Homo sapiens: one gene and its partners. The protein of the gene in region 1 interacts with the protein of each later gene in a biochemical or structural test. Each region holds a gene or a part of one and is shown in the gene's direction. Other genes may lie near its edges.

Region 1 (9,633 bases):
GTAATCCCAGCAATTTGGGAGGCCGAGGTGGGCGGATTACGTGAGCCCAGGAATTGGAGATCAGCCTGGGCAACATCGTGAAACCCCGTCTCTACAAAAAATACAAAGATTTGCCGGGTGTGGTGGCAGGCGCCTGTGGTCCCAGATACTCAGGAGGCTGAGGTGGGGGAATCACCTGATTCCGGGGGGTCGAGGCTGCGGTGAGCTGTTACCGTTGCCACTGCATTCCAGCCTGGGTGACAGAGTGAGACCCTGTCTCAAAAAATAAAAAAAAAAATTTAGAAATGAAGGTGGAAATTCTACTGCTTCTTTGAACTGTGAATTTAAGTTTTGTGAGTCCAAAAGGAATTCCATTACATTCAGCATACAGGTCAAGTCACCAAGGATATCATATGAAATTAAAAAAATGAGTACAGACTACTTCTTCAGTGTATTCTAGAATCAAACATTTCTACATTCTTTAGAAAAAAATACATCTTTTTCGTTTGTTTGAGACGGAATCTAACTTTGTCACCCAGGCTGGAGTACAGTGGTGTGATCTCGGCTTACTGTAACCTCCGCCTCCCGGGTTCCAGCAATTCTTCTGCCTCAGCCTCCGTAGTAGCTGGGACTACAGGCGCGTGCCACCACTCCCGGTAATTTTTTTGTATTTTTTAGTAGAGATGGGTTTTCACCATATTGGCTAGGCTGCTCTCGAACTCCTGACCTCGTGATCCACCTGCCTTGGCCTCCCAAAGTGCTGGGTTTACAGGCATGAGCCGCCACTCCTGGCCCTAAAAAATACATCTTTTCACTTATTGGGAGAGGCAGACAAACCAGTAGTCCCCAAATTTGACCATTAGAATAATTAGGAGAGCTTAGAAATTCCAGGGTCTTACCTTCTGAGATGGATTTAGTAGGTCTGGGTTGGCTTCAACCAATTTATTTTTAACACATGCCTTAGGTAATTCTGATGGTCTTGGGAACCACTGAGGGCAAATGGTACTGTAGACTTACCAAGGAAAGGTCAAAAAGCTTTGAGACGAAAGAGGAAGTGGCCAATTCTGTGTGTGTGGCTGGGTGGAGGATTGGTTAGAAGAGGCAAGATTTGCCCCTGAACCCACATTGGGTCTTACATGAAGAGTAGGAGTGTGAAAAGGGCGGGGAAAGAGAAGGACAGGGTAGGCTGAGTGAATGCCTTAATGCTGTGTGTAAATTCAGAGGATTATGGAACAAAAAGGGTTCAGGGAGTGTGGAGTGGAATGGGGAAGGAGAGCATTTTGAAACGCAAGGTCAGAAAGGTTAAAGGAAGCAAGTATATGAAAAGTGATTTTTTGTTGTTGAGACTGGGTCTCACCCAGTCACGCAGGATGGAGTGCAGTGACAGGACCTCCAGAGCTCAAGTGATCTTCCCACCCCAGCCTCCCTGAGTAGCTGGGACAACAGGCATGCATTAGCATGCCTGGCTAATTTTTAAAATTTTTTTGTAGAGAAAGGTTCTCTTTACGTTGCCCAGTCTGGTCTTAACTCCTGTGTTCAAGTGGTCCTCCCACCTTGGCCTCCTAAAGTGTTGGGATTACAGGTGTAAGCTACTGTGCTCTGGCTAAAAATTTTAAGTATAATGCTAAAAATTTGGAATTTTATGTTGGTAGAAATAGATACAGGGCTGGGCTCAGTGCCTCACACCTGTAATCTCAACAGTTTGGGAGGCTGAGGCGGGTGAATCGCTTGAGCTCAGGAGTTTGAGACCAGCCTGGGCAACATGGTGATATCCCGTCTTTACCAAAAGGAAGGAAAAAAAAAAGAAATAGATGCAGATTTTTCGACAGGGAAATGATGTGAGTACATATGTGTTTTAGAAAATTGCTGTGTACTGCAGGACAAAGATAGGTATCAAAAAACAAAAAAAGAAAGATTGCTCTGGTGATGAGCGAAAGGATGAGGGACTAGCTATTGCAGAAGTCTAGTTGAGAAATGACAAAGCCTGACCTTGGAGAGAGGTTGTGGGGATGATCAAAGGATTGGATTTAGCTTTTTACTAGTGCAATATTGTTGCCATATTTCTAGATGAGGATTTTTTTTTAGAGCTAATCTGGGTAAAGGGCTCCTTTTCTGTCAAAAGAACCCATTAGCAAGTCTGAATAATATTGCCAGGTTATATATGTTATGTATAGTATGAGAGTGAATTGTTCATTAGCATCTTTGAGAAATTAGAAAGAACTATGTCAGGTGTAATTTGGAAGAGAACTTGAAGTTTGTTATTGTTACTATTTTTGAGATGGAGTCTTGCTCGGCCATGCAGGCTGGAGTGCAGTGATGTGATCTCGGCTCACTGCAACCTCCACCTCCCGGGTTCAAGCGATTCGTGTGCCTCAGCCTCCCAAGTAGCTGCCTCCCAAGTAGCTGGAATTAGAGGTGCATGCCACCAAGCCTGGCTAATTTAGAACTTGGAGTTTGGACTGAAATTTATGCCTCTAAAAAGTATTGATCTAGGCTTGTTGGGAGTGTTTTTCTCTCAGCCTGTAGAAACTTGCTCATTGAGTTTTAGAGTTGGGAGAAGTTACAGAGATTATCTAGTCCATAATGGCAAATATATTTTGGTTTATTGGCCAGCTCTAATTGGAAGCTGCCAGAAGCACTGTGTTTGGAAGGATTCTGGTTGTAGGTGCTCTGAGAAATTGTATTATGGTTGATCAATGATGTCTCCTGTGGACAGTTACCTAGTAGGTAGTAGACATGTGCCAAATATATGCTATTCTTAGATAAGTCCAATCTCTTAGTTTTCTGTTTTGTTGTTGTTTGTTTGTTTTAAAGGTTAAATAATTTACCTGAAACTAGTTAAGAGTAAGAACTAGAACTAGAACTGGGTTTTGCAACTCTGGGACTGGTATTCTCTGGTTTACAAAGATCAATGTGCACTACTGAAGAGCTTCTGGTATTAGACTAGAAAAAGAAAAGGGAGATTTTTAGCCTATGCGTCTTGACTGTTTAGGCAAGAGTTTAACAAGGAATTTTGGCCTAGAAGTAAGTTTTGTTATATTCATTCTGTCTTAAGAAATTTGTGTTAGGGCCGGGCGCGGTGGCTCATGCCTGTAATCCCAGCATTTTGGGAGGCTGAAGCGGGCAGATCACGAGGTCAGGAGATCGAGATCATCCTGGCCAACGTGGTGAAACCCCCATCTCTACTAAAATACAAAAAATTAGCTGGGTGTGGTGGCATGCACCTGTAGTACCAGCTACTTGGGAGGCTGAGGCAGGAGAACCACTTGAACCTGGGAGGCGGAGGTTGCAGTGAGCTGAGATTGTGCCACTGCACTCCAGCCTGGCAACAAGAATGAGACTCTGTCTCAAAAGAAAAAAAAAAAAAAATTCGTGTTAGTACTGATAGGAAATAGTCATCTGTTTTGTTGTTTTGCCACTTTCTTTCTTGTTGCCTAAGTCTCTGTTTTGGGTTTTGGACATTGGTTTCCTTTATAAGAATTAAGACAAAAGTATGTAAGGTTTTTTTTTTTGTATTTATAGTACTTAGCCAAATTCTGGGCTCATAATAAGCACTCAGTAAAGGCATGTTGACTTTTATGGCTGTAAATGATACTGGCTTTGAGTCAATATAAATTAGTTAGGGGGTTCACAGAATTGAATTGCAGCATTCTCTGGTTGGGAGGTTGGCTTTCAGCTAAAAACGTTAAGTTGGAAACTATCCTCACAACTAGAAGCAGTTAACCAGAAGCTGTTCCTGCCTCTATCCTCCTCCAGTCTAGCAGTGTACTGTCCTTGAAAAACTGCTGCCAGCTCAGCTTTTTTGCTTCTTTTCAGAACTGACTATATCCAGATCCTTGGTGTGCGTTTTCTTTTCCTGTCCCTAGGAGTCTCCAAGTTGCAGGGACTATCATTATGGTGACCCTTATAGGCTGGTGTATTTATATGGCCATCCTCATTTTGCCAGATAGCCGTCATACTCAGATTGGTGTCTTCCCATAATACGTATGAATCATTTTCCCTCAGTTCTTTCTTTTGTCCTGTCTGCTCCATTAAAAATTGTCTATCCCATGAAATTTTTAAAAGAGACTTTGTGCTTTTAGAGTCGCAAGGTCGTTGCAGATCTGATGTGTTTAACTATAGAGGTCAGCTGGGTGTGGTGGCTCACGCCTGTAATCCCAGCACTTTGGGAGGCTGAGGTGGGTGGATCACGAGGTCAGGAGTTCAAGACCAGCCTGACCAATATGGTGAAACCCCATCTCTACTAAAAATACGAAAGTTAGCCAGGCGTGGGGGTGCACGCCCGTAGTGTAGTCCCAGCTACTCAGGAGGCTGAGGCAGAAGAATCGCTTGAACCCAGGAGGCGAAGGTTGGAGTGAGCCAATATCATGCCACTGCACTCTAGCCTGGCGACAGAGCAAGACTCCATCTCAAAAACAAACAAACAAAAAAATATAGAAGTAATGTGTTAATGGACTCTCCTTCCTTTCTCAGGTACCATGCATTTCACGGTGGCCTTGTGGAGACAACGCCTTAACCCAAGGAAGTGACTCAAACTGTGAGAACTTCAGGTATGGTGTCATCCTGTGAGAGAAATTGGGGGCAAGAGTGATGCAGAGGCCAAGCTCTGGTCTTATACCTGCTGTGAGGAGAGAGCAGTGTTGATGCTAGCTGCATCAGTTGGTTGAACATATAGGCAGCTTCACTTGGTTCTGAAACCCAAAGCTGCCTCTGCAGGGATTAGCCTGTGAGCCACACTGTGCTCTTAATTTGGGTTTTCTGACTTTTCTGTTTTTGTAGATCCCTTATACATATGCATACTTTTTCTATTTGTGTTGTTTTATACACGTTTATCTCTGTATACTATCTAGACATGTGCATGTGTAGGATTAAGAGGTGGGTAATGAAAAAGAAGACAACATGGCCAGGTGCAGTGGCTCATGCCTGTAATTCCAGCACTTTGTGGGGCGAAGGTGGGAGGATCACTTGAACCCAAGAGTTTGGGACCAGCCTGGACAACATGGCGAGACCCTGACTCCACACAAAATAAAAAAAAATCAGCTGGTGTGGTGGCGTGTACCTGTAATCCTAGCTGATTGGGAGGGTGACATGGGAGGATCACTTGAGCCAGGAGGTTGAGGCTGCAGTAAGCCATGATCACGCCACTGCACTCCAGCCTGGGTGACAGAGTGAGACCCTGTCTCGGAAAAAAAAAAAAAAAAAGACAACATGGTTCAGTGCAGAAAGAATAGAGGACTTGGAAAGAAAAGATCTGGGTTCCGATTTGATTTTGCCACTGACAAGCTGTGTGACTTTCGGCGAGTTATTTAATCTTGCCAGACCTCAGTTTATACATCTGTAAAATAGGTAAGTATTGATTCCTGTCTCCATCCCTGGCATTGTTGTGTGGATCAAATAAAATAATACCTATTAAATCTTTAGAAAAGGAAATGAATTCATGACTTAAAATGTTATCTTGGCCAGGCACGGTGGCTCATACCTGTAATCCCAGCACTTTGTTTGGGAGGCCAAGGTGGGCGGATCACTTGAGGTCAGGAGTTTGAAACCAGTCTGGTCAACATGGTGAAACTCCATCTCTACTAAGAATACAAAAATTAGCAGGGTGTGATGTCATGTGCCTGTATTCCCAGTTACTTGGGTGGCTGAGGCAGGAGAATCATTTGAACCCAGGAGGTGGACACTGCAGTAAGCCAAGATCGTGCCACTATACTCCAGCCTGGGCAACAGAGTGAGAGTCTGTCTCAAAAAAAAAAAAAAGAAAAGAAATGTTATCTAGATCCACAAGGTGAGAGAAGTTGAGAGTAGTATTGTGAAGGAAAACATGAGGACAAGACAGATCACTTTAAAAGGTCAGGAGAGAAGGAAGACTACTGGGTAAGAAAAAAAAAGTAGAACATAAAGTTAAGCAGTAAGAGAATAGGGAGTGAATGAAGTTGAGCAGGTGAATTGTTAGATAAGAAAGCTGAGGCTGGGCGCGGTGGCTCACGCCTGTAATTCCAGCACTTTGGGAGGCCGAGGCGGGTGGATCACGAGGTCAGGAGATCGAGACCATCCTGGCTAACAAGGTGAAACCCCGTCTCTACTAAAAGTACAAAAAATTAGCCGGGTGTGGTGGCGGGCGCCTGTAGTCCCAGCTACTCAGGAGGCTGAGGCAGGAGAATGGTGTGAACCTGGGAGGCAGAGCTTGCAGTGAGCCGAGATCACACCACTGCACTCCAGCCTGGGCAACAGAGCCAGACTCCGTCTCAAAAAAAAAAAAAAAAAAACTGAATAGGAAGATACTGGTAAAATAGAACTAAAATATGATCCAGCATTGCCACTTTTGGGTATATATCCAAAGGAAATAAAATCACTTCTTCTTTTTTTTTTTTTTTTTTTTTTTGAGATGGAGCCTTCCCCAGGCTAGAGTGCAATGGCACGATCTTGGCTCACTGCAGCTTCTGCCCCCTGGGTTCAAGTGATTCTCTTGTCTCAGCCTCCTGAGTAGCTGGGACTCGGGAGGCCAGGCGTGCACCCACCACACCTGGCTAATTTTGTATTTTCAGTAGAGACGGGGTTTCACCACATTGGCCAGGCTGCTCTTGAACTCCTGACCTCAGGTGATCTGCCCGCCTCTGCCTCCCAAAGTGCTGGGATTATAGGCGTGAGCCACTGAGCCCGGTCCTGTTCTTTTTTATAATCAAGAGAAAGGAAGGAGATGGTGGAATGATTTGTGATAGCTACTATAAAGCAATTTAAAAAATATTTAAAAGTATTATTAAAGTATTTAAAATATCTTTAAAATATTTCTCAGCATATCCATTTCATCTCAAGCTCACAAAGCAGTTCTTTGTGGAAAGGTATTTGAGCCAACATTCAGGAAACCTGCGTTCTACCATTGGTATTACTGGTCACTTAAATTCTGTGATCTTGGGCAGCTCACTTAAATCTCCCTGGGCCTGGTTTCCTCACTTATCTATTGAATGTTTTGAATATGATTTCTCAGGTTCTTTCCAGCTCACTCTATTATATTCTGTGCTTTATGTGCTAACTCACTGATTTTTCATGGCTTTGTTGACATCACAATATATGACTGATATCAGAAATATCTTATAATAAGGCTTCGGCCGGCCGCGGTGGCTCATCCCTGTAATCCTAGCACTTTGGGAGGCTGAGGCGGGCGGATCACGAGGTCAGAAGATCGAGACCATCCTGACTAACATGGTGAAACCCCGTCTCTACTAAAAATACAAAAATTAGCTGGGCGTGGTGGCGGGCGCCTGTAGTCCCAGCTACTCGGGAGGCTGAGGCAGGAGAATGGTGTGAACCTGGGAGGCGGAGCTTGCAGTGAGCCGAGTTCACGCCACTGCACTCCAGCCTGGGCGACAGAGTGACAGAGGGATACTTTGTCTCAAAAAAAAAAAAAAAAGGCTTCATAATGTCTGATGCTTTATAAATGAGAAACCATGTTATTTTAAGTTCTACTTTTTTTTTTTTTTGAGAGGGAATCTAACTCTGTCACCCAGGCTGGAGTGCAGTGGCGCAATCTCAGCTCACTGCAACCTCCGCCTCTCGGGTTCAAGCAATTCTCCTGCCTCAGCCTCCTGAGTAGCTGGGATTACAGGCACCCGCCACCATGCCTGGCTAATTTTTTGTATTTTTAGTAGAGATGGGGTTTCACCGTGCTAGCCAGGATGGTCTCGATCTCCTGACCTCGTGATCTGCCTGCCTCAGCCTCTCAATGTGCTGGGATTACAGGCATGAGCCACCGTACCCGGCCTTTTAAGTTCTACTTTAAACATTGGCACTGAGAGACCTGTAGGAAACGTAAGTATAGAAAGTTTAAGTTTGTAATATTTGACAAGGATCTGTTGAGCTGCTATTGTGCTAGGTTCCAAGGGGTACTCAAATATAAAACTCCTGGTTTAAGGATTTTGTCAGGAAAACAGACTTCCTTGCCAGTGATTGATTATTATAAAAAGGAAGTTGGTAAATGTTACAAGAGTTTCATTGCATTGCAATTTAAGAAATTAAGTTCAGATTTTTTGGTTCCTTTAACATGATTGAATGTATTCCTTTTTTTTTTTTTTTTGAGACGGAGTTTTTCTCTTGTTGCCGAGGCTGGAGTGCAATGGTGCAATCTCAGCTTACTGCAGCCTCCACCCACTGGGTTCAAGCGATTCTCCTGCCTGAGTCTCCCAAGTAGCTGGGATTATAGGCATGTGCCACCACGCCCAGCTAATTTTGTATTTTTACTAGAGATAGGGTTTCACTGTGTTGGTGAGGCTGATCTTGAACTCCTGACCTCAAATAATCCACCTGCCTCGACCTCCCAAAGTTCTGGATTACAGGCATAAGCCACTGCACCTGGCCAAATGTATTTTTTTTTTTTTTTTGAGGCAGAGTCTTGTTCTCGCCCAGGCTGGAGTGCAGTGGTGTAATCTTGGCTCACTGCAACCTCCGTTTCCTGGGTTCAAGCCATTCTCCTGCCTCAGCCTCCTGGGTAGCTGGGATTACAGGTCCCTGCCACCATGGCCAGCTAATTTTTATATTTTTACTAGAGATGGGGTTTCACCATATTGGCCAGGCTGGTCTCAAACTCCTGACTTCAGGTGATCCGCCTGCCTTGGCCTCCCAAAGTGCTGGAATTATAGGCATTCGGCCTAACATAATTGAATGTATTTTAAGTGCTGCTGTATGCTAGACATTGCAGGGACTTATGGTGAAAAAGCAATCTCTGCCCTCCAGCAACTCGCATTTTTTTTTTCCATGTCTGGAAATTGCTTACCCTAATAGATCTATCCTTCTGTCCCAGAAAAGAGAAGAATTTTAATACTATGTCGTCACTTACAGGTTAAGAATTCATCTACATATTGAGCTTAACTCACTCCAGAAATATCTACTAACTTGCTTGCTTTCTGAGAAAATGTTTATTATTTTACTGGATTCTGCAACCTTTTCTTTGTCAGTTACAAGAGAACATTTTTTTTTTTTATTTTTTTTTAAGATGCAGTCTTGCTTTGTCGCCAGGCTGGAGTGCAGTGGCACAGTCTTGGCTGACTGTAATCTCCGTCTCCCAGGTTAAAGCGATTCCCCTGCCTCAGCCTCCCATGTAGCTGGGACTACAGGTGCCCACCACCACGCCTGGCTAATTTTTTGTATTTTAGTAGAGACGAGGTTTCACCATGTTGGCCAGGATGGACTTTTTATTTTTTATTTTTTTAAGACAAGATAAGCTCCAGAAATAACCATCTGCATTTAGGTGAACTTTGATTTGCTTGTTAGGCCTTCATTCGTGCAAAGAAAGAGTAGGTTCTACAATTTTGTCTTGATTATTTTTCCAAATAATCAAATTTAGTTGGTCACAAAGGAAAGGATTTTAGTCTAAAGGATTATATTGTAGGAGTTAACAGTATTTACTGGAGTTAGGTTGATTTTGAATTTTGACTCTACTGTGTAGTGGTGGTATGATCTTGGCCAACTTGCCTAACTTCTTTTTGCCTTAGTTTTCTCATCTGTAAATTGGGAATAGTAATAGCATATATACATAGGTATTATGTGTTTCTGCTTGAACAAGACTTGGCTCACAGTGTGAAGTGTTAGTCGTTGTTTTCATTATCATCATTACCATCAACCTTATCTTTCTTAAAGTTATGATCTGAGTTCATAAATCAT
Region 2 (3,648 bases), on another chromosome or scaffold:
TGTGGGCGTGACCTGGGCCCAGGATGGGAGTGGGGGCAAGATTTAGATTGGTTGGTGCCAGGGGCGGAGTCAGAACCTGAGAATAGTGTGGATGCGAGGTCTGGTTTTGGGGACGGACCCGACACCCAGATTAGGTGAATGGCTGAGGTAGGCCAAGACCCCTATGCCAAGGGTGGCACGTGAATGTTGGCGTGGGACTGGGGCTGGTTTCCAGGGGCGGGGCCTAAGAATCTAAAACCCAGTGCAGTAATCAGGAGGTGGGTATTGGAGGGTTCCCCTAGCAGCCGGTGCGTTGAGGGAGGGGCAGCCTTCTCTCTGAGCCCCTCCCTGTGTTCTCTTTCCCAGGAGACGAACTCACCAAGCTGGGCGAGGAGGATGAGCAGGGCTGGTGCCGTGGGCGGCTGGACAGCGGGCAGCTGGGCCTCTACCCTGCCAACTACGTGGAGGCTATCTAGAGGCCCCCTCCCTCCATACTCCCGTCACTCCTCCCCACTGCCGCCCCTCCCCTCCCACTCTCGTCTCCTTCCCCTCGCCATAGAGTTCCAGACATATTTTCCGATCAAGCTTTTATTTTTTTAAAAGTCAAAACAGAACAAAACAAAGTATGCAGAGACAGAGCATTTGCAGGGCCACCTGGAGGCTGGGGTGCTGGGGCTTGGGGTGGCCCCAGGGTAGGTAACAGTCTTAGGACTTAGCCCAACATCACAACATCTGCTCTTCGGGTTCCACCAAAGAGTCTCCTGAGCCCTGAGGGATGGATGTCTCCTGACCCTTCCACCCCGCCTCACTCCCTCCGTCCCACTCCACTCCAGGCTGCCGGCACCTGCCCCATTCCCTGGCCTGGTTTCCTAACCTCTTCTTCCTCCCCTGCCCTGCTTCCCTTCCTCCACCACCCTGCTCTCAAAGGCCTCCTCTCCAGACCCCTGGAAGGGAGGCTTCCCCATCTTTAGTTTTCCACTCTGCCCCGGGGAGCACCCTTCTACTCCTAGCCACGTCCCTTGGGACCGGTGGGACTGGAGGAGGAACGGTCACCCTCCTCCCCCATGGAGGTTTCCAGGGGTCCCCCAGACATGAAAGAGGGGTGAGCTGGAGGAAGTCATGGTGTCACTGGGGTACAGGAGGGTGAATGAAGGGCATGCAGGCCCTCAGCCCGGGCTGTGCCAGCCCTCCCAGCCCCAGGCCCATCTGAGGGACCAAGACGCTGTTACGCAGGCCCTTCTTTCCAGCTATCAGCACTTTCAGCATCGGCTCTTCAGCAGATCCAAACCCCCTCAGCAACTTGCAGAGGACCTGTCCCCTCTCAAAAGTCCCCTGGCCTAGGGTGGGGACCCCCAAACCTACGGCAAAGCCAGCAACAGTAGCAGCCTGCTCCCATTTGCTGGGGAGGAGATCATCTTGTTCCCCTGGCCCCCCACTCTCCCTCCATGTCCATCCAAAAACCATAAAATCACTGGGTTCCACATCAGCCTCCATGAGGCCAAGCCTTGTACCTGCAAGGCTCTTGGCCTAACCATTCCTCTGTCCTCTTCTCTGGCCTGCCTGGGGAGCCCGTGAAGGCCGCACGGGTGCCTCCAGCCTGAGACATCAGGGGAGAGCCTGCAGCTGAGTTCAGCAGAAAGGAGGAATCCTGGCCCTCAGGAAGAAGATAGTCACATGTTTTTCTTCCTTGTCCCCACGGCCCCCAGAACAACATTCTCCCTGCTGGCAGCCCTTCCATGTCTCCAAACCTGGGTCAGAGTGAAAGGACCTTTGGGGGTGGGTGGGAGCAAAGGGCCCACCTGCTGGTTGGTGAAAGCAGTGGTGCCGGAGTGCTAGGTACCGCACGAGAGGGTGCGGGGGCTTGGGAAGCAGACCAGGGTTGGACAAAACCCCATGAGGGCGGGGAGCTGGAAGAAAAGTCTCTTGGGGACCTCTGGGGCAAGGAGCTGAGAAGTCCTGCAGCACCAGGTGAGACTTGCTTACAGTGGATGCCACTTCTAGGCCTCTGGACCGCAGATGCCCTCCTCCCTCCTGCACACCTGGCCTCCTGGGCCTCCAGGTAAAGAGAGAGAGCCAGCCCAGCCCTGTTTCCCCTCAGTCCTCCTTTGCTCCTGCTGCTTCTCCCAACAGCCCACTGTTAGGAGGTAGTAGACCCCAGCCTCAAGGCTCTGACCTTCTTCATGTGGGCACAGAGGGTCCTGACACTCTGGCAGGGCCTGAGCTGGGGCAGGCCTCCCTCAGGGCCAGGGGCGATGGCACCCCGGGGACAGGCAGACCTCCTTCCTGCCGTCAGCACCCCCTTCCTTATCACTGTCTGGTCTCCGAGCTTCGGCTGCAGCCTGAGGTGTGTCCTGGGCTCCTCAGAGCCTGAAGCAAGCTTTTGGAAGCCTGCAGTCCTCCCAGCTCCAGTGCAGAAGCCTCTCTCTCCAGCCTTTCCCCAGGCAGGAGTTGGGGTTGGGGGCCTCTGTCCCTCATCGCTTACCTTGGAAAGGTGGGAAGCTGGCAATCTGCACCTTGGGGCCTGGGCTCCCCCTCTCTGTGCCAGCGGCTTCCCAGCACCTGGGAGGGGCTGCAGCCCCAGCTGGACTCCAGCCTGTCCCTCTTAGCACTCTAGCTGCCCACTCCAGGGCAGGGACTCGAAACCCCCTCCGTCCTGAGCAGCCACCTCCAGGGCCCTGTTTGGGACCACTCTCTCAGTCCCCAGGTCCTCAGGGCCCCAGAGCGGGAGGGTCTCCTACCTGGAAGTCCCCCTGAGCTCCAGGGCCCAGCCCTACCTGCCAGTGCTGGTGTCAGGGCACTCAACACCGAGTGTGGGGGCCACGCCCCTTGCCATGCCCACGGCCTCCTCCTGTAGCTCCTGCCTGCACCCACGATGCTGCACGGGCCCGCCCTGGTGGGGCTCGGCGAGTAATGTGTTTTGTCCCCAGTTAACCACCATTCTGCGGCCTGGTTCTGCAAGGAACCAGGGCTGCCCCACCGCCCGCCGTCTGCCGCCCTAGGCTTCCTGACTCCATTAGTTCCGACACTTGTGAAACTCCGAGAAGTGCTGTGGTCTCAGCAATGCACCTGTTTTGTACATGATTGTGTAATTTAAAGGTATATAAATACAAATATATATATATATCAGTTGTGATTGTATGACTGTGGATAAAATCCAGAACTGTGTCAACCTGGCTGCGCATTGTCATCTTGAGTCTGTGCACCTTCAGTCCTGGGGGTTTCTGAGCCCTCTGAGAGCTATTTGTGGTTGGGATGCAGGGGGGTAGGGGTGGTGCCCGAGCAGGACTGGGTGCTGTCCTGGCCCACCATCCACAGACTAGGCCACTGAGAGCCGGTCCCTTCGCCCTGCGGGGGCCTGGGTCTTGTCTGGACTGGGGAGGGTGATACTGGAGGCTCCTGGAGCTCTGGCCCATTCAGGTTCCGGGTGCCTGGTGACAGGCCCTGACCAGGAGAGCTGGGGCATTCAGGGTTCCACATTCATGGATCAAGAGTGAATGAGGTCCTCAAATAGGTTTTGCTTTTTAAAGCAGAATTCTAAAAGTGACTGCTGAGGCCCACGGTTCCTGGCTGTCCACAGTGCCAAGCTCCCTGTGCGGTGATGTTGGGCTGTGCCATGCCTTCCTGCGTCTCGCCTGGCTCTGAATGCATTTCTGTGTGGGACCCGTGGGA
Region 3 (9,633 bases), on another chromosome or scaffold:
TGGGTTCTGCATCTGGAATCCTGCGTCCCCACACAGGGAACAGAGTTTGGGTCTCGAGGTTGCCAAATGGTTTTAGCAGCTCCTCCGCCAGCCCCTTCTGTCTGCTTGGGGGAGCAGCTGGCTGAGGAGCCGCAGCCCCACCTCGAAGCCAGGCCTGTGAGGCGGCTGCTGTTCTGGAAGGAGGGGATGGGGGTTTCTGGCTGCTGTGCCCACCAGACCGGTTGCCAGGGATTGTGGGCAGAGCTTCCTGGGCCAGCATTAGGGGATAATCCGGTTTTCCGGATTTCCCAGGGAGGGGGCCTCTAGACATCTGCCACAGGGTCAGTCCTCAGAAGCCAGTGTTGAGACGGGGGTGCTGCCACCCACGAGGACTCTCCCTTCCCGCTGTGCCTGGGAGGGAGTTGGGGGAGCGTGGAAATACAGAACCTGCTGAGTGCCCAGGGCCGCTGCTGCCCAGCCACTGCCTGCAGCTGCTGTTCCTTCAGGAGCCAAAGTGAGCCCTGGGGCAGGGGCCGCCAGAGAGAGCCCTCCACAGCCGACTTGCTGTCTGCCCTTGGCAGGGCGCTTTCCTTTTCTGAGCCTGGGTTTGCTCCGGGGAAAAGACATTCTTAGAGGTGCCCAAAATAAGAGGCTCATTGGGACTTGGTGGGGTTTGGTACAGATGAGGCCTTGGCTGTTGTCAAGGATTGCCGCCTGAAACCCAGCACCAGGCTTGGGGGGCCTGAAGTCTTGGGGAACCGCAGGACAGTTCTGAGACTGAAGTTCCAGCCTTGCTCTGTGGCCGCGGCCAAGTCACTTGCCTTACGGGGCACCAGTGAGTTCCCTGTCAAACAGAGGACACCCCCCAAGACACCCCGCGTGCCCTCCCTGTCCAGGAGGGGCCCGTCCACGATCCAAGACCCCCAAAGTGCCCTGCCTGTCCGGGAGGGGCCTCGCCCACAATCCAAGACCCCCGAGTACCCTCCCTGTCCAGACCTCGCCCACGATCCAAGACCCCCTGAGTGCCCTCCCTGTCCAGACCTCACCCACGATCCAAGACCCCCTGAGTGCCCTCCCTGTCCAGACCTCGCCCACAATCCAAGACCCCCGAGTACCCTCCCTGTCAAGGCCTCGCCCACGATCCAAGACCCCCGAGTGCCCGCCCTGTCCAGACCTCGCCCACGATCCAAGACCCCCGAGTGCCCTCCCTGTCCAGACCTCGCCCACGATCCAAGACCCCCGAGTGCCCTCCCTGTCCAGACCTCGCCCACGATCCAAGACCCCCGAGTGCCCTCCCTGTCCAGACCTCGCCCACGATCCAAGACCCCCGAGTGCCCTCCCTGTCCAGACCTCGCCCATGATCCAAGACCCCCGAGTGCCCTCCCTGTCCAGACCTCGCCCACGATCCAAGACCCCCTGAGTGCCCTCCCTGTCCAGACCTCGCCCACGATCCAAGACCCCCTGAGTGCCCTCCCTGTCCAGGCTTCCACCACGATCGCTCTGGGGGTGCTGCTCTCGTGCCTTGGAGTGCTGAGTGCCACCAGGACCCCTGACCCAGACAACCTCTGTGTCTGGCACTGGGGCCCAGCAGGAAAACAGTGAGGCTTCCTTGTTTACCTGCTGTGGCCCAGGAGGGCCGTGGGTGGCATCACGCCCCAGGCTGCAGGCCAGACAGCTCTGTCACCTGGCACGTGGCTTCAGGCCTCCCTCTGTGGCCGTCCTTGCCAGCAGATCTGGACCTCCAGGGCCTGGGTGACCACAGGGGGCGATGCTGACAGGGAAGGAGTCCTGCCAGGTTTCTGTGACCTATGGGTCTGCCTGCCTGACCCCCCAAGACCGGACACCTGAGGGCAGACGGCCATACTGACTCATCCCCTCCCACGGCCTGGGCCAGGGCAGGTGTCACAAGTGTTTGCTAACTGAGCAATCATCTGTGCTAACCCTCCCCACACCCTGGCTGCCAAGGCCCTGGAGGTGCAGCCCTGGTCCTGGGCTTCAGCTCCATCCAAGGGGAGCCTGGAGCCCCTGCCAGTCCATTCTGTCTGCTGGTGGGTGCCCCTGGCCTGGGTCCCATATGCCTGACCTGGGCTGCCACGGGCCTGGAGCCACGCGGGCAGCCAGTGCCCACGTTCCCCAGCAGTTGTGCTGGGCCGGGTCCCGGCCACCTGGACTGTGTAGGAGCTGGGATCAGCTCGGGTGACTCAGAAAAGGCTTCAGGCAGCCTTCTGGGGACTTGACCCCAGGCCTGTGAGAGTCCCTGCCTTGGGCAGGATACGGTGTCCCTCACACACACCCTCAGGCACCAGCACTGGGAGTGGGATGGCCTTGGGCACCTTGTGAGCTGGGGCAGGTCTTGGGGCTGGGCTGGACTGAGCCACCTGCCTTCTGCCCCTGCAGGCGCGCCTCAAGTTCCCCATCGACTACCCATACTCTCCACCAGCCTTTCGGTTCCTGACCAAGATGTGGCACCCTAACATCTACGAGGTGAGCGCGGCCCCCACGGGCCTCAAGTCCTCATCCTCCGGGACCCAGGGTGCTGGGAGCCTCACGTCCTCATCCTTCCGGGACCCGGGGCGCTGGGAGCCTCACGTCCTCGTCCTCCGGGACCCGGGGCGCTGGGAGCCTCACGTCCTCGTCCTTCCGGGACCCGAGGCGCTGGGAGCCTCATGTCCTCGTCCTTCCGGGACCCGGGGCGCTGGGAGCCTCACGTCCTCGTCCTCCACGTCCTCATCCTCCGGGACCTGGGGCACTGGGAGCCCGTGCTGACCTCTGACCTGTTCTGACCTGTCTTCTTCTTGTGCAGACGGGGGACGTGTGTATCTCCATCCTCCACCCGCCGGTGGACGACCCCCAGAGCGGGGAGCTGCCCTCAGAGAGGTGGAACCCCACGCAGAACGTCAGGTAAGCCGGCCCAACCCCCTGTGTCCACCCAGAACATCAGGTAGGCCGGGCTCCGTCCCGTATCCACCCAGACCATCAGGTAGGCCGGGCTCCCCCACAGGCTGTGGCGCCAAGGCCTGATTCGGGACCTGCCAGCTGGCGGTCCTGGGCCTCGCTGTACCTGCACGGTAGGTGCTTTCACGGGGCCTGCGGCACCGTGTGTCGGTGCAGACTCCCACCAGGACCCCAGGCCGGCCCCACCGTCTGGAACCACCTAGAGGTGTCCCGCCATCCTCAGTCCTGGGGCCTTCTCCTTACCCAGCCGTCTCTGGGTTGGTCACCTCGTGCCACGTGTGCCGCCTGGGCCTCGTCCCCAGGTACAAGCACTGGGCCGTGTTGCCCGTGTGTCCTGGAGTGTAGTCTAGGCAGGACGTGCGGGTGTGAGGGCAGCCCCGGGTCTGACGGAGGGGTCTGCACCTTGCTGCCCTCCCTGGTCTTGGCGTGGGAGGGAGGAGACTGATGCAGGTCCAGCCCCTGCTGTTCTGGGGGCCTGAGACAGAAGCAGAGGCCATGAGGCCAGGTGAAGGTCACCTGCTGGGTGGGTCCAGGCGTCCCCGTGACCCTCAGGGCCAGAGAAGAGCCGGAAGGCTGGGGTGCCCCGGGCCGCCCCACTCCGACCCACTCTCCCCACAGGACCATTCTCCTGAGTGTGATCTCCCTCCTGAACGAGCCCAACACCTTCTCGCCCGCAAACGTGGACGCCTCCGTGATGTACAGGAAGTGGAAAGAGAGCAAGGGGAAGGATCGGGAGTACACAGACATCATCCGGTGAGGGCGGGCGGGGGCGTCACGGGAGGAGAGACTCAGATCCGGCCTGCACCCCGGCCCCTGGTCCCACGGCCGCCCAGCCCCACCTTCCTGGTGAGGGTGGCGGAGCTTCCTGGTGCCCATTTACAGGGTGCCAGTCACAGATGGAGGCCGGGCCGAGTGGCGGAGGGTCCAGCCAGGTTCAAGCCCAGCTTCTTGCCCCTTTTCCTCTTTTTTTTTGTTTGAGACAGAGTCTCTCTCTGTCACCCAGGCTGGAGTGCAGTGGCGCGATCTCGGCTCACTGCAAGCTCCGCCTCCCGGGTTCACGCCATTCTCCTGCCTCAGCCTCCCAAGTAGCTGGGACTACAGGCGCCCGTCACCACGCCCGGCTAATTTTTTGTATTTTTAGTAGAGACGGGGTTTCAGCGTGTTAGCCAGGATGGTCTCGATCTCCTGACCTCGTGATCCATCTGCCTCGGCCTCCCAAAGTGCAGGGATTACAGGCGTGAGCCACCGCGGCCGGCCTTTTTTTTTTTTTTTTTTTTTGGAGACAGAGTTATACTCTCTTGCCTAGGCTGCAGTGCAGTGGTGCGATCTCGGCTCACTGCAGCCTCCACTACTCGGGTTGGAGCAGTTCTCCCCCTTCATCCTGCCAAGCAGCTGGGATTACAGGTGCCCACTACCACGCCGAGCTAATTTTTGTAATTTTTAGTAGAGGTGGGATTTCACCATCTTAGCCAGGCTGGTCTCAAACTCCTGACCTCAGGTGATCCACCCGCCTCGGCCTCCCAAAGTGCTGGGATGACAGGCGTGAGCCACTGCACCTGGCCTGGTGGTTAGTGTTTTCATAGATTCTTCCAGGCTTTTCAGTTTAACGCATGTCTGTGCTTTAATGAAGAAATGGGGTCGTGCTGTGTGTGCCCAGTGACTGACTGTTAGGGAACATGTGTCTGTGCCTTAATGAAGAAATGGGGTCGTGCTGTGTGTGCCCAGTGACTGACTGTTAGGGAACATGTGTCTGTGCTTTAATGAAAAAATGGGGTCGTGCTGTGTGTGCCCAGTGACTGACTGTTAGTCAGGGGTGTTGGCCTTACTCATGTCTGGAGTGCGTCCCTGCAGGCTCTTGGCCTGGTGAGCTCTGGGTACAGCTGTGCAGTCGCCTACCGGCGCCTTCTGTACCTGCAGTCCACTTAGCTTGCGTGGCTGTGTGTGGTGACCCACGGCTCTCCCTCTCCTCCCATCGCCCTCATGCCCCAGAGCTGAGCCCCACAGCCCCTTCTCTTGGGTGCCTGTGTTCACATGAATGTGTAAACACGTGCGTGTCTGTGTACAAAGACAAGGCTTTCTTTACGGGTTGACGGCCTTAATGGTTCCTGCTCTTCCTGTTACATAGAGGCCCTTCCTATCCATTTTTTTTTTTTCTCAGAGTGATATTGCATAGATTTCCTCACAGAGGCCTCACCTATTTTTGTTGGTATTTTGTATAAACAGAATCTTAAAAACAACTTTTAAAATATTGCACACATAATGCATGTGTCTTCCTCGCCCCAGGACCCAGGAGCATCCAGGGCACCTTCCATCCTGCACTCGCTGGTACCTGGTGTCGTGGGGTCATCTCGGGGCAGCATCCTGGTGCTGGGCGGTCTCGGCTCTGAGCAGCCATGGTGGGCGGGCCCCGTGCGGCCTCCTGGGAAGTGGCCTGCAAGCACCTGCTGGCCTCTGGAGGTCACAGGGTAGCTGCCCTGGCCGTCCCTCTGGTGCAGATGTCCTCGGTGGCCCCGGTCCGGTCGTGTCACCTGGCCCAGGTGGCTGGCTCCTTGGCCCGGTTCTTCCCGGCCACCTCCCTGAGGCACCACCTCCTTGAGATCCCAGCACAGAAATAAAAGCCACACTATTTTTATCCCTCAAAACTCCCTGTGGGCCAACACACATGTGCCATGTGGACTCTGCTGTGGTCGCCGTTTCTGCCTGTTTTTTCATCTGTGTGCGTGTTGGCCTCGTGGCAGCCCAAGTCCCGCTGAGCTGTGTCGGGCAGGCTGCCGTGGAGCCCGGCTTGGTCAGGGATGTTGGTCTTGCTGAACAGGACCTCCAGACCGTCCTCCAGCTCATGCTGGCGGTGTGCCGGCGGCACCTCCACGGTGCAGGTCAGTTCCCACCCTGGCCCTCCCCTGCGTCTCCCCACAGCCGCCACCTCTGCGGTGCCGTCCCCGGGGCACCGTCACCCCCCCAGCCCGTCCACCCTGGCCCTCCCCTGCGTCTCCCCACTGCTGCCACCCGTGCAGTGCCGTCCCCGGGGCACTGTCAGTCACCCCCCCAGCCCATCGGAGAGCTTGGAAAGCAAAGCTTGGCGTCCGCTGGGTCCCGCCACCCAGGGACGTCCCTGAGGCCAGACGCCTGCCCTCCACGCGTCATGCATCCCCATAAAAAGCACTGGGCTTGTGGGCTGGGCTTGGGGCTGTCTGTCTGCTCCCTGGTGCCCTCCCATGCGGGCACTGTGGGACCCGCACACCCTGGTAGCAGCCAGCCCCAGAGCCCAGAGCCGTGCCTGGTCGGTGATAGGGGCTCGAGCCCATTGCCTGCGGCTGCAGCCTCGTTCCTGTTTTCTGTCAAATGGGGTCAGCGTGCCGCCTGGCCCTGCTGTGCCACCCCCGGAAGCCCCTTTGCTTCCAGTCCTGGGGGGACATTCTTGACGCGTGTCCTGGAGGTGGAGCCGGGGGCAGGTTCCTCGTAGGTCCTGGTGTGCGCGGTGCAGCCCCTCATAGGGCCGGGTGTACACGGTGCCCTCCAGGAAGTTTGAGCTAACTTGTCCTCCCTTCCTGCCAGAGGCTGGGATGGCCAGGCCCCCCAGGTTTAGAATCCGGAGGCCGGGGTGGCCAGGCCCCCAGGTTTAGAATCCGGAGGCCGGGGTGGCCAGGCCCCCCACGTTTAGAATCCGGAGGCCGGGGTGGCCAGGCCCCCCAGGTTTAGAATCCGGAGGCCGGGGTGGCCAGGCCCCCCACGTTTAGAATCCGGAGGCCGGGGTGGCCAGGCCCCCCGGGTTTAGAATCCGGAGGCCGGGGTGGCCAGGCCCCCCGGGTTTAGAATCCGGAGGCCGGGGTGGCCAGGCCCCCCGGGTTTAGAATCCGGAGGCCGGGGTGGCCAGGCCCCCCGGTTTAGAATCCGGAGGCCGGGGTGGCCAGGCCCCCCGGGTTTAGAATCCGGAGGCCGGGGTGGCCAGGCCCCCCGGGTTTAGAATCCGGAGGCCGGGGTGGCCAGGCCCCCCGGGTTTAGAATCCGGAGGCCGGGGTGGCCAGGCCCCCCGGGTTTAGAATCCGGAGGCCGGGGTGGCCAGGCCCCCCGGGTTTAGAATCCGGAGGCCGGGGTGGCCAGGCCCCCCGGGTTTAGAATCCGGAGGCCGGGGTGGCCAGGCCCCCCGGGTTTAGAATCCGGAGGCCGGGGTGGCCAGGCCCCCCGGGTTTAGAATCCGGAGGCCGGGGTGGCCAGGCCCCCCGGGTTTAGAATCCGGAGGCCGGGGTGGCCAGGCCCCCCGGGTTTAGAATCCGGAGGCCGGGGTGGCCAGGCCCCCCACGTTTAGAATCCGGAGGCCGGGGTGGCCAGGCCCCCGGGTTTAGAATCCGGAGGCTGGGATGGCCAGGCCCCCGGGTTTAGAATCCAGAGGCTGGGATGGCCAGGCCCCCCGGTTTAGAATCCGGAGGCCGGGGTGGCCAGGCCCCCGGGTTTAGAATCCTGCTGAGGCCACGGAGAGGCTCAGGCCGTTTTTGCGTTTCCCATCTCACCTGTGCTGGTTCCCGTCTCCAGGGATGGTCCTGCCTCCTGTCCTTGGGCCCTCCCAGCTGCTTCCTTTGCTCCTGCGCTGAGGAAGGCTTTTGCCCCCCAGTGGGGCAGCATGGGCCCTCCCTGTTGCCGGCATCGTTATTTTCTCCCAGCTCCTGATGGGTCCCTTGGGTTGTGCTTCGGGGCGGGGCAGGCGGGTGTGACTGCACTGCGCCCGTCCAGCCTCCCACCCGCACCTCCTGCCCTTCCCGAGCCCCCTCCTCTGTCATTTCTCCCCCTGGAGTTCCTCACGCACAGGGCTTTGTCCTAAGTGGTCGCCACACGCCGTTTTAAGAGAAACCTGAGCGTTGGGGTGAGCGTCGGACCTGGGGGAGGGGGGCCGGGCAGGGGCCGAGTCCAGGCACGTGGGTGGCGCCCTCACCCACCCTGTCCCCCCAGGAAGCAGGTCCTGGGGACCAAGGTGGACGCGGAGCGTGACGGCGTGAAGGTGCCCACCACGCTGGCCGAGTACTGCGTGAAGACCAAGGCGCCGGCGCCCGACGAGGGCTCAGACCTCTTCTACGACGACTACTACGAGGACGGCGAGGTGGAGGAGGAGGCCGACAGCTGCTTCGGGGACGATGAGGATGACTCTGGCACGGAGGAGTCCTGACACCACCAGAATAAACTTGCCGAGTTTACCTCACTAGGGCCGGACCCGTGGCTCCTTAGACGACAGACTACCTCACGGAGGTTTTGTGCTGGTCCCCGTCTCCTCTGGTTGTTTCGTTTTGGCTTTTTCTCCCTCCCCATGTCTGTTCTGGGTTTTCACGTGCTTCAGAGAAGAGGGGCTGCCCCACCGCCACTCACGTCACTCGGGGCTCGGTGGACGGGCCCAGGGTGGGAGCGGCCGGCCCACCTGTCCCCTCGGGAGGGGAGCTGAGCCCGACTTCTACCGGGGTCCCCCAGCTTCCGGACTGGCCGCACCCCGGAGGAGCCACGGGGGCGCTGCTGGGAACGTGGGCGGGGGGCCGTTTCCTGACACTACCAGCCTGGGAGGCCCAGGTGTAGCGGTCCGAGGGGCCCGGTCCTGCCTGTCAGCTCCAGGTCCTGGAGCCACGTCCAGCACAGAGTGGACGGATTCACCGTGGCCGACTCTTTTCCCTGCTTTGGTTTGTTTGAAATCTAAATAAAACTACTTTATGAGAGGCCAGAGAAGCTGTGCTTGGGAGGGAGAGGCAGCCTCCACGTCCATGAGTGACTGCACACGGCCAGTCCCACTGGGACCCTGGCTACGCCAGGTGTGGATCTGGGAGGCCTGTCCTGGGAGGCACGGGGAGCAGCCGGGTCCCGCGGCCTGTACGTTCCCATGACTTGGGTCAGACAGGCCTGGGCAGCATCCCCCAGCCTGCGGGACAGGGGCGGCCAGAAAGCCCCCAGAGTTCCTCCTCCCTGTGACCAGGTGCATCTAGTGGGACGGGAGCTGCCTCTGCAGGCATCCAGCAAAGCTTCGTCGCGGGTCCACAGCCGCCTGGGCGTTGATCTCAGCGTCTCAGGGCTCCCAGGACCACAGATGCCCCCGATCAGCACTCCGGCGGCTCCAGCTCCGTCCAGGCACACCCTCGGGGTGGGGAGCCGTGGCCCTGGGCACACAGGGCAGGCACCTCACGTCCTGGTGTCAGGAAGTCCCCAGCATCGTTTTATTACATGTCATGGAGGAAAGCTCGGAGCTCCCATGCCCTCCCGGGGCACCGCCTTCCAGGAACCTGCCTGCGTTCCGCTTCTGGGCACCCGGAAAGTCGCTCAGTGGCTGATTCAGGGTCGAGGAGCTGTGAGGATGAGGTTTCCCACCAAGTTGGGACAGAAAATGGGGCCCTGGGGTCTCAGCAAACCATGGCCCTCGGGACCAAACCTGGCGTCCGCCCCTATTGTGAGTGAAGTGTTACTGGCACAGCCACACCCAGGTCTCAGGATCATCCATAGCTGCTTGGTTTGGTTTGGTTTTGTTTTTGAGACACAGTCTTGTGTTGCCCAGGCTGGAGTGCAGTGGTGCGATCTCGCCTCCTGGGTTCAAGTGATTCTCCTGCCTCAGCCTCCTGAGTAGCTGGGACTACAGGCTCCCACCACCATGCCCAGCTGATTTTTGTATTTTTAGTAGAGATGGGGTTTCACCATGTTGGCCAGGATGGTCTCGAACTCCCAACCTCAGGTGAT
Region 4 (6,550 bases), on another chromosome or scaffold:
TTTCAAAGCACATATTAATATAATAAAGACTCTGAAAAGTCTAATAGTCAAATGAGACTTTTAAAGCTTTAACCACTGGGTGCAGTAGCACATGCCTGTAATCCCAACACTTTGGGAGGCCGAGGTGGCAGCGTTGCTTGAGCCTGTAGTTCAAGACCAGCCTGGGTGACGTGGTGAGGACCCTGTTTCTACAAAAAAAAATTAAAAATTATCTGGGCATGGTGGTGTGTGCCTGTGGTCCCAGCTGCTTGGGAGGCTGAGGTGTGAAGATCACTTGAGCCCAGAGGCTGCAGTGAGCCATGTTCATGCCACTACACTCCAGCATGAGGGACAGAGTGGGACCCTGTCTCAAATAAATAACAAACAAAAACTTCAACCTAGTGTTTTTCTAACTTTTTGAACAGGAAACTCAGCCATTTATTGGCTATGTGAACTTGTCTCAGCTTTAGAGGGGAGACTCCTTCATAATGATGATTGTGAGCATTCAGGAAATGAGTTTGTAAAGCGCTTAGCATGCTGCTTGGCACATCAGAACTCGATGAGGCGGTGCTGCTTTTTATGTAGATGTGTTCTTGACTTACAGTCTAACTGGATGATACGAGGCCAACAGATTTGAAACACTTAGAAACTGTGGTTGGGATGGAGGGTCATTTGTGGCAGGCTTTGTGGAGAAAATGGGTTTGAAGGGAGCTATAGTGAGTTAGATAGAATTTAGCAAGTTGGGAAGTGTGGCAATCTTAAGTTGTTTCTCTGAACATCCTCAAATGTTTGTAAATTTCCAAATCACTTGGCTTTTAAATCTTCTCTTATGGATTCTAGATTTAATATAAGTTGAAAGACATTTGAAGTATTGAAAAATCTAAATTAGCGCTGTCCAGTAGAACGTTCTGTGATGATAAGGATACAGCTGTGCTGTTCAGCTTGCCAGTCACTAGCCACATGTGACTACTGAGCACGTGAAATGTGCTTAGCATGACTCAGGAACTAAATTGTAAATTGTACTTAATGGCAATTAATTTACATTTAAAATTAAATATACCCACGTGGCTGTGAGCTACCATAATAGATAGAAACAAAGTGAGCTCAGAATGAAATTAAGGATTTGTTGTCAAATAAATCTAATATGGATAAAACCTACTTACAGTTAATTCTTTTGTAATTGATGAATTGACTATATAATGTTGTTTTTGTTGTTGTAGGTCTCCAATTGAGAAACATGGCACTGTTTTTCCTGCACTCTACCCACCTATTGCTGGACTTCTGTTGTACAAGTTGGCAAACACTGGCTGGAACTGGGCTGCAATAAAACATGCCAGTTATCAATGCTGACAAGAGCCTAACAAGTGCCAACTTACAGATGATTACGCATTTTGAATTCTAATGAACTGTTTTAACCTTCAGGAAGAATTGTAAAGACCTGTACATAGCACAACATGATCCGGATAATATATATACTGTTCATGTACATCCACAAATACACCTTGTACCAAATAATGCTTTCTTGTAGTAGAATAAGAATCGTGTAAATTCTAAGAGATTTTAGCAGGTTTTCTTTCCTATTCATTGTTTCTTATCAGTTTAAAAGGATTCCTTTAAGCATGTCAGATGAAAAGCAATTAGGATTAAAAGTTTCCATTTAATTTCCCTTAAACCCTTGAGGCTTCATTAAACTCTTTTCACTTACTAAACTTTTGTATCTTCTTTGTTTTGACACACTCCCCTTTGCTTTTATCTCTTACCTGCCAGAATGTTCTCAAATGATTTAGTTCAAATACTGAAATACTTAATGAGCAATTACTTGATTTTTAATGATGACTTCGAAGGAGTCATCACTAGGTGCTTTGTCCTTTTTGTATTCTAGTTGCACCCACCTCTTGGATTGGATATAGCAATAACATTTATTGGCCGTTGTGAGCTCTTGATCCCAGTCATTACCCCTGAGAACTAAAAATAGATGGTTCTTAATTCAACTTACTGAAAATTTCCCCAAACAATAGCAAATCTGACTTTTCCCTCTTCAGTTGCCTGGTATTAAGGTTGGATAAATGAAGCATGCACAGCTACAGGCTTTCTACTTAACTTCTGGGTTTGCTATTACAAATCCTATTTACTCTCATACCCTTCTCCTTAGTCCTTCATATTTCTCTGCCTCTATTCTTCTATACTGCAGATTTTTCTCACCTATTGTACAAAGAAATTGCGATGTATATTTTCATGTAATTTGATTTTGGAATTCTGTCACCTTATGTAGTGAGTTCTTCCAAAATATAATTTTTTTTCAATAATTGTCAAGTTGTTGGCTTTTATTGTATTGAATGAAGGCTATAATACTGAGTGCCAGAGAAGTGGTTTAGGAAAATCTCAGGTTGATTCCTTATGCAAATGAACTTTTAATACTTGAAAATCACATGGCCATGGCAGTATATGTATTTGGTTCTATCTAGATTCTTCTGTGAATCTAAAAGCATTACAGGGGTAAATGCTTTGCTATTTGACGTATAGATCCCGTCACTAACAATAGTACACTTGGATGTGATTAATGTTTGAGCTTCAATATATTTCATATCATACAGTTTTCTAAAACAACTTCAGCAAATGGTAAAATGAACATGTGCAGTGTTAAAGGCAGGCCTTAGGCTCCTTCATGTTTGTTGTGAGGTTGTGTGTGGGAAGTAGTCTTTGGCTTATAAGGGATAGAACTTGAGACAGTAGCAGATGGGACATGGTGTTTGATTGTGAGAATCAGTGAGAATTCGTGCATCTCTGCTCTGTGGGGTTTGGAGAAATGCTTTGGCAGAAGAGTGAAAGAACTCCTGCCAAGAGCCCAGACCTCTACAAACGTTGTATGTCCTTTTTTAAGCAGAAATAAAATGGTTGAGGATGTAGTCACAGTAGAGAGTGATTTTTTTCTAAGTCCCTGTCCTCTACTCTGAAGCGTTATAAAAACCTGTAAACATTATACAAACCCACAAACCTTATAGAAACTCGTAAGTGTGTTGTGACTGGAAATTGATTCATTAGAACCCAGTTTTCTTTAAGAACTTTGTGACTTGGTTTTTTTTTTCCTTTTCCAAAGACTGTAAAAATAGTTGCCCCAAAATGTCAGCACTGCACACCCTCCAGGGACTTGGAATACAATCCTTTTTACTTTTTTTTTTTTTTTTTTAAGAAACTGGGTCTCTCTGTCACCCAGGCTGGAGTGCAGTGGCAACGATCATAGCTAACTGCAGCTTTGACCTCCTGGGCTCAAGTGATCCTCCTGCCTCAGCCTCCTGAGTAGCTAGGACTACAGGTGTATGCCACCATGCCTGGCTAATACAAAAAAATTCTTTTAAGAGATGGGATCCCTCCCTTTTAAAATCAGAACTTGTTCACATGGTGGTTGCTTGTGGCAAAACGGAGTTCAAATTTTGCTCTCCTATTGCTATAATTCTGCTAGCAATCTGTTGAGGTGAAACTTGGGATCTGACTCTTCAGCAAGCAGCAAATGACCTAGTAACTCAGGGACAACTATTTTTGAACTTTAAGTGCCACTTTAATGCAGTTAGTTTGATAAAACCATGTGGGTTTTTTTTTTAGGGCTAGCTCTACGGGAGTGGAAGTGAGAGCCAGGCATGAGTGCGTCTCCACATGCTTTTCCACCTGCCCTGAGTGTGTTACATACTGAAACAGGCCTACATAGATGTTACAACTTCCCTTCCTCTGTCGGAGATGTCATCTGTGCCTTTCTCAGTGTTCATCTGATAATGTAAATTTAAATGCCTCTACATTTGATACGAAACCCACATTCAGGTGACACTGAACGAGGTGGCTTTTGTCCCACCAGTGCCTCATCAGTGTGAGGCGATTCCTCTCTGCTTTAGGAAAATGATTTTTCCCCCTAAACTTGTGCCAACCATCAACAACATCTCCATAGATCTTATGGATTGTAGAACTGTTGGCTGTTTCCTAAATTTATTCCAAGTTCTCGTAGAGGCATATAGATTTCAGTCTGTGCTTGTATGGGATAGATGATCTGAGTGGCTTTCTGGCCTCTTTTTTGAGTTTAAAATCCATATGAGGTTGACGTGTCATACTAAGGTAACATGTTTGTGAGGTTATTCCACTAGTACTGTGATCACGTGGGTGTCAGTATCTTTAACGGCCTTCATTCTTGGTTGTGAGATTTTATTTGATATGCCCACTCACCCTCGACGAATCTGCCCGCTTTGGGCTGTGGTGCCTGTGTATCTTTGCCCGTCTGGTCTCCAGTTGGTGGAATTACCTTTTTTGTACTGCCACTTCTCAGCATCTTTGAAATTTGACATAATGTTGCTTCATTTCAGTTTTTTTAGTTCTGTAATTTGTTGATTGTATTTAACTATGTGAGTTCTGTTGTGATGTTTACTGTATTGTAAAGCACCTCATTCATGTGATGAGTGCTCTATAAATCAATAAATGATGACTTAGAGGCTGTATCACGAGCTATTTTGGTTTTAGGATGCAGGTCTCAAAAGCAAGTTGTGGGACTCTTTCTGTATAAACAGCACATGATACCAAAGGAACCACAGGGAAACCTTGTATTTTACAGACTTTAAAGAAGGAACCAGAGAAGTTAACTTGCCTTCCAACCTGATAATGATGCTCTTTAGATTTCCAGTACGTGGCCATGCACCGTTTTAACTCAGAGTTTGTGTGCACTGTGATTTATAACCTTCGAGTGAGCACTTATTAGAACATTATTGGGGATTTTGTCTTTGGCCTAAACTGGCTCTACCATAAAGGTAAGCTGAAAGGTGAGGAACCCAGACTCAAATGTGAACTGGAAGAGACTGCAGGCACCATCTCAGTCACCACCTCTGTCCTCTAAACAGACGGGAAAATGCGCCAATACCTGCCCAGGGGTCATTTAGTAAGTTACTGACAAAAGAGGCAAGACTGAGTAGAGAACCTTCTTTACAAGATACACAAGATATCAACATCCAGCTTTTTATCCTGAATCCTTACAAATAGTTCATACGGAGTTAGTGTTAGATGTTGAAAGCTTGTTTGTCCTTGATATAAATCACTAGCGACTATTAAGGGCTCTTCCTTACAAACTCGGAGAAAGGAACATGGAGTCAGACCTCTTATTCAGCTAAATTATGAACAAGAAAATCCCCCGAGAGGAGTTTTGGGAAGATGAGGGATTATTTCTAGAGTGCAAATACCCGATAAATATATTTGGAATGAACTGTTGTGGAAGGGTCTAGACAATATATATCCCCAAACTTACATCAGTTTTAGACATAATCAGCTACTCAAGGTATAGAGCCAAAACGTTTTATTTGCATGCTGCTTCCAGTGCAGATGAACAGGTTTTCGATGGTGTGTGCAAGGCACGAGGCTCCCAGGAAAGATGTGGATCTCCCGCTCCCTCTCATGGGACAGGGCTAATAACCGCCTTTCAAATTGAACCCTTTCTGCCTTGAGGAGGCCCGGAACCCTCACAGGATTCAGTTCACAGATCAAATGATTTTCTGGGTATGGTATTTCTGGTGGTTCAATTTCAGATGTGTGTAATCTGGCTGCCAACGTAGGATTAGGCTTTTTGGCTTGTGGAGTTGACACTCCTCACTGAGCTTTAGCGAAATGATGAAAGAATTTTGAATTCTGTTCACACAGGTAAATAAACTGAAGGAAAAGCCTTTCACAAAAGGGAGCCAAACACATCTTCTAAGACATAGGAGCTGCACAGAAAGTCCTAGGCAAGAAACTTGATTTTTTTCCTCTTCTCGGCAGTATGCAATATTCACAGTGACTTCCATTTATTCCCAACAAGAGCGCTGGAAATCAAGTTTTTCTATTTGTTGAGCCTCTCTTCTGTGGCAAGCTTGTGCTATGTGTTTTTCCTAAAGGTTCTAGTCACATTGTTAGAAGCAGCTTCCAAGGTAATCATTTCTCATGAGGAAACAGGCTCAGGTTAACTTGCCATCGTTGCACAGCACACAAGTTGCATGGCTGGGATTCGGTTCCACCGCCTGCCTTGCATACTGGGTGTTATTAGCCCTTCTTCACAGGTGAGGAAACCAGAGCTCACAGAGCGTGGATGTGTTGAGACCGGTGCTTGACCCAATTCATCGGACTAGCACTGGAGGTGTCCTCCTCTTCCTGCCCTGCCATGATACCGCACTGCCTCCTGAGTCTGTTCCCCTGTGCTCTTGAAGCTACGGTAGACAGCATTTATTCCCTTCCTGTTCTTCATGTTCCTTGTCTGAGACAGCACCACACTAAGTCCCTCTGAATCTGACTGCAAAACCTGAAGTGGGTCTAAAATGGACCATGCTCCAGTGCTCAGCTTTTTCAAGACGTCTGTATTTCTGGTTATAGCTAATGTTATAGCTCCATCCAAACCTGGTGGGTGCTGTAGTTTACTGAGTACTATGAGTGCTTTATTTCATAGGCTTTACTACCTTCTCTCTAACTCAGGGGTTACAGGTCAGTAAGAGTCCCCTCAAAAGACAAGGGCTGGCCGGGCGTGGTGGCTCACGCCTGTAATCCCAGCACTTTGGGAGGCCGAAGTGGGTGGGTC

Evidence for each region.
Region 2: the proteins of ITCH (region 1) and PACSIN1 form a complex in vitro, tested with the Homo sapiens proteins (2 studies listed by BioGRID, with this or other methods).
Region 3: the proteins of ITCH (region 1) and CDC34 form a complex in vitro, tested with the Homo sapiens proteins (3 studies listed by BioGRID).
Region 4: the proteins of ITCH (region 1) and UBE2G1 form a complex in vitro, tested with the Homo sapiens proteins (2 studies listed by BioGRID).

What each region holds. Positions count from the first base shown.
Region 1 is NC_000020.11:34,364,942-34,374,574, forward strand, and holds part of ITCH (E3 ubiquitin-protein ligase Itchy homolog), read left to right. Parts: intron 1-4,452; 5' UTR 4,453-4,529; intron 4,530-7,760; exon of another isoform or gene 7,761-7,785; intron 7,786-9,633. UniProt on the Homo sapiens protein: Acts as an Acts as an E3 ubiquitin-protein ligase which accepts ubiquitin from an E2 ubiquitin-conjugating enzyme in the form of a thioester and then directly transfers the ubiquitin to targeted substrates.
Region 2 is NC_000006.12:34,532,076-34,535,723, forward strand, and holds the end of PACSIN1 (protein kinase C and casein kinase substrate in neurons protein 1), read left to right. Parts: intron 1-345; coding exon 346-455; 3' UTR 456-3,148; downstream 3,149-3,648. UniProt on the Homo sapiens protein: Plays a role in the reorganization of the microtubule cytoskeleton via its interaction with MAPT; this decreases microtubule stability and inhibits MAPT-induced microtubule polymerization.
Region 3 is NC_000019.10:533,461-543,093, forward strand, and holds the end of CDC34 (ubiquitin-conjugating enzyme E2 R1), read left to right. Parts: intron 1-2,376; coding exon 2,377-2,463; intron 2,464-2,782; coding exon 2,783-2,880; intron 2,881-3,552; coding exon 3,553-3,687; intron 3,688-5,217; coding exon of another isoform or gene 5,218-5,530; exon of another isoform or gene 5,531-5,576; intron 5,577-7,878; coding exon 7,879-8,092; 3' UTR 8,093-8,627; downstream 8,628-9,633. UniProt on the Homo sapiens protein: E2 ubiquitin-conjugating enzyme that accepts ubiquitin from an E1 ubiquitin-activating protein, and catalyzes its covalent attachment to other proteins by an E3 ubiquitin-protein ligase complex. In vitro catalyzes 'Lys-48'-linked polyubiquitination.
Region 4 is NC_000017.11:4,267,166-4,273,715, reverse strand, and holds the end of UBE2G1 (ubiquitin-conjugating enzyme E2 G1), read left to right. Parts: intron 1-1,199; 3' UTR 1,200-4,457; downstream 4,458-6,550. UniProt on the Homo sapiens protein: Accepts ubiquitin from the E1 complex and catalyzes its covalent attachment to other proteins. In vitro catalyzes 'Lys-48'-, as well as 'Lys-63'-linked polyubiquitination. May be involved in degradation of muscle-specific proteins.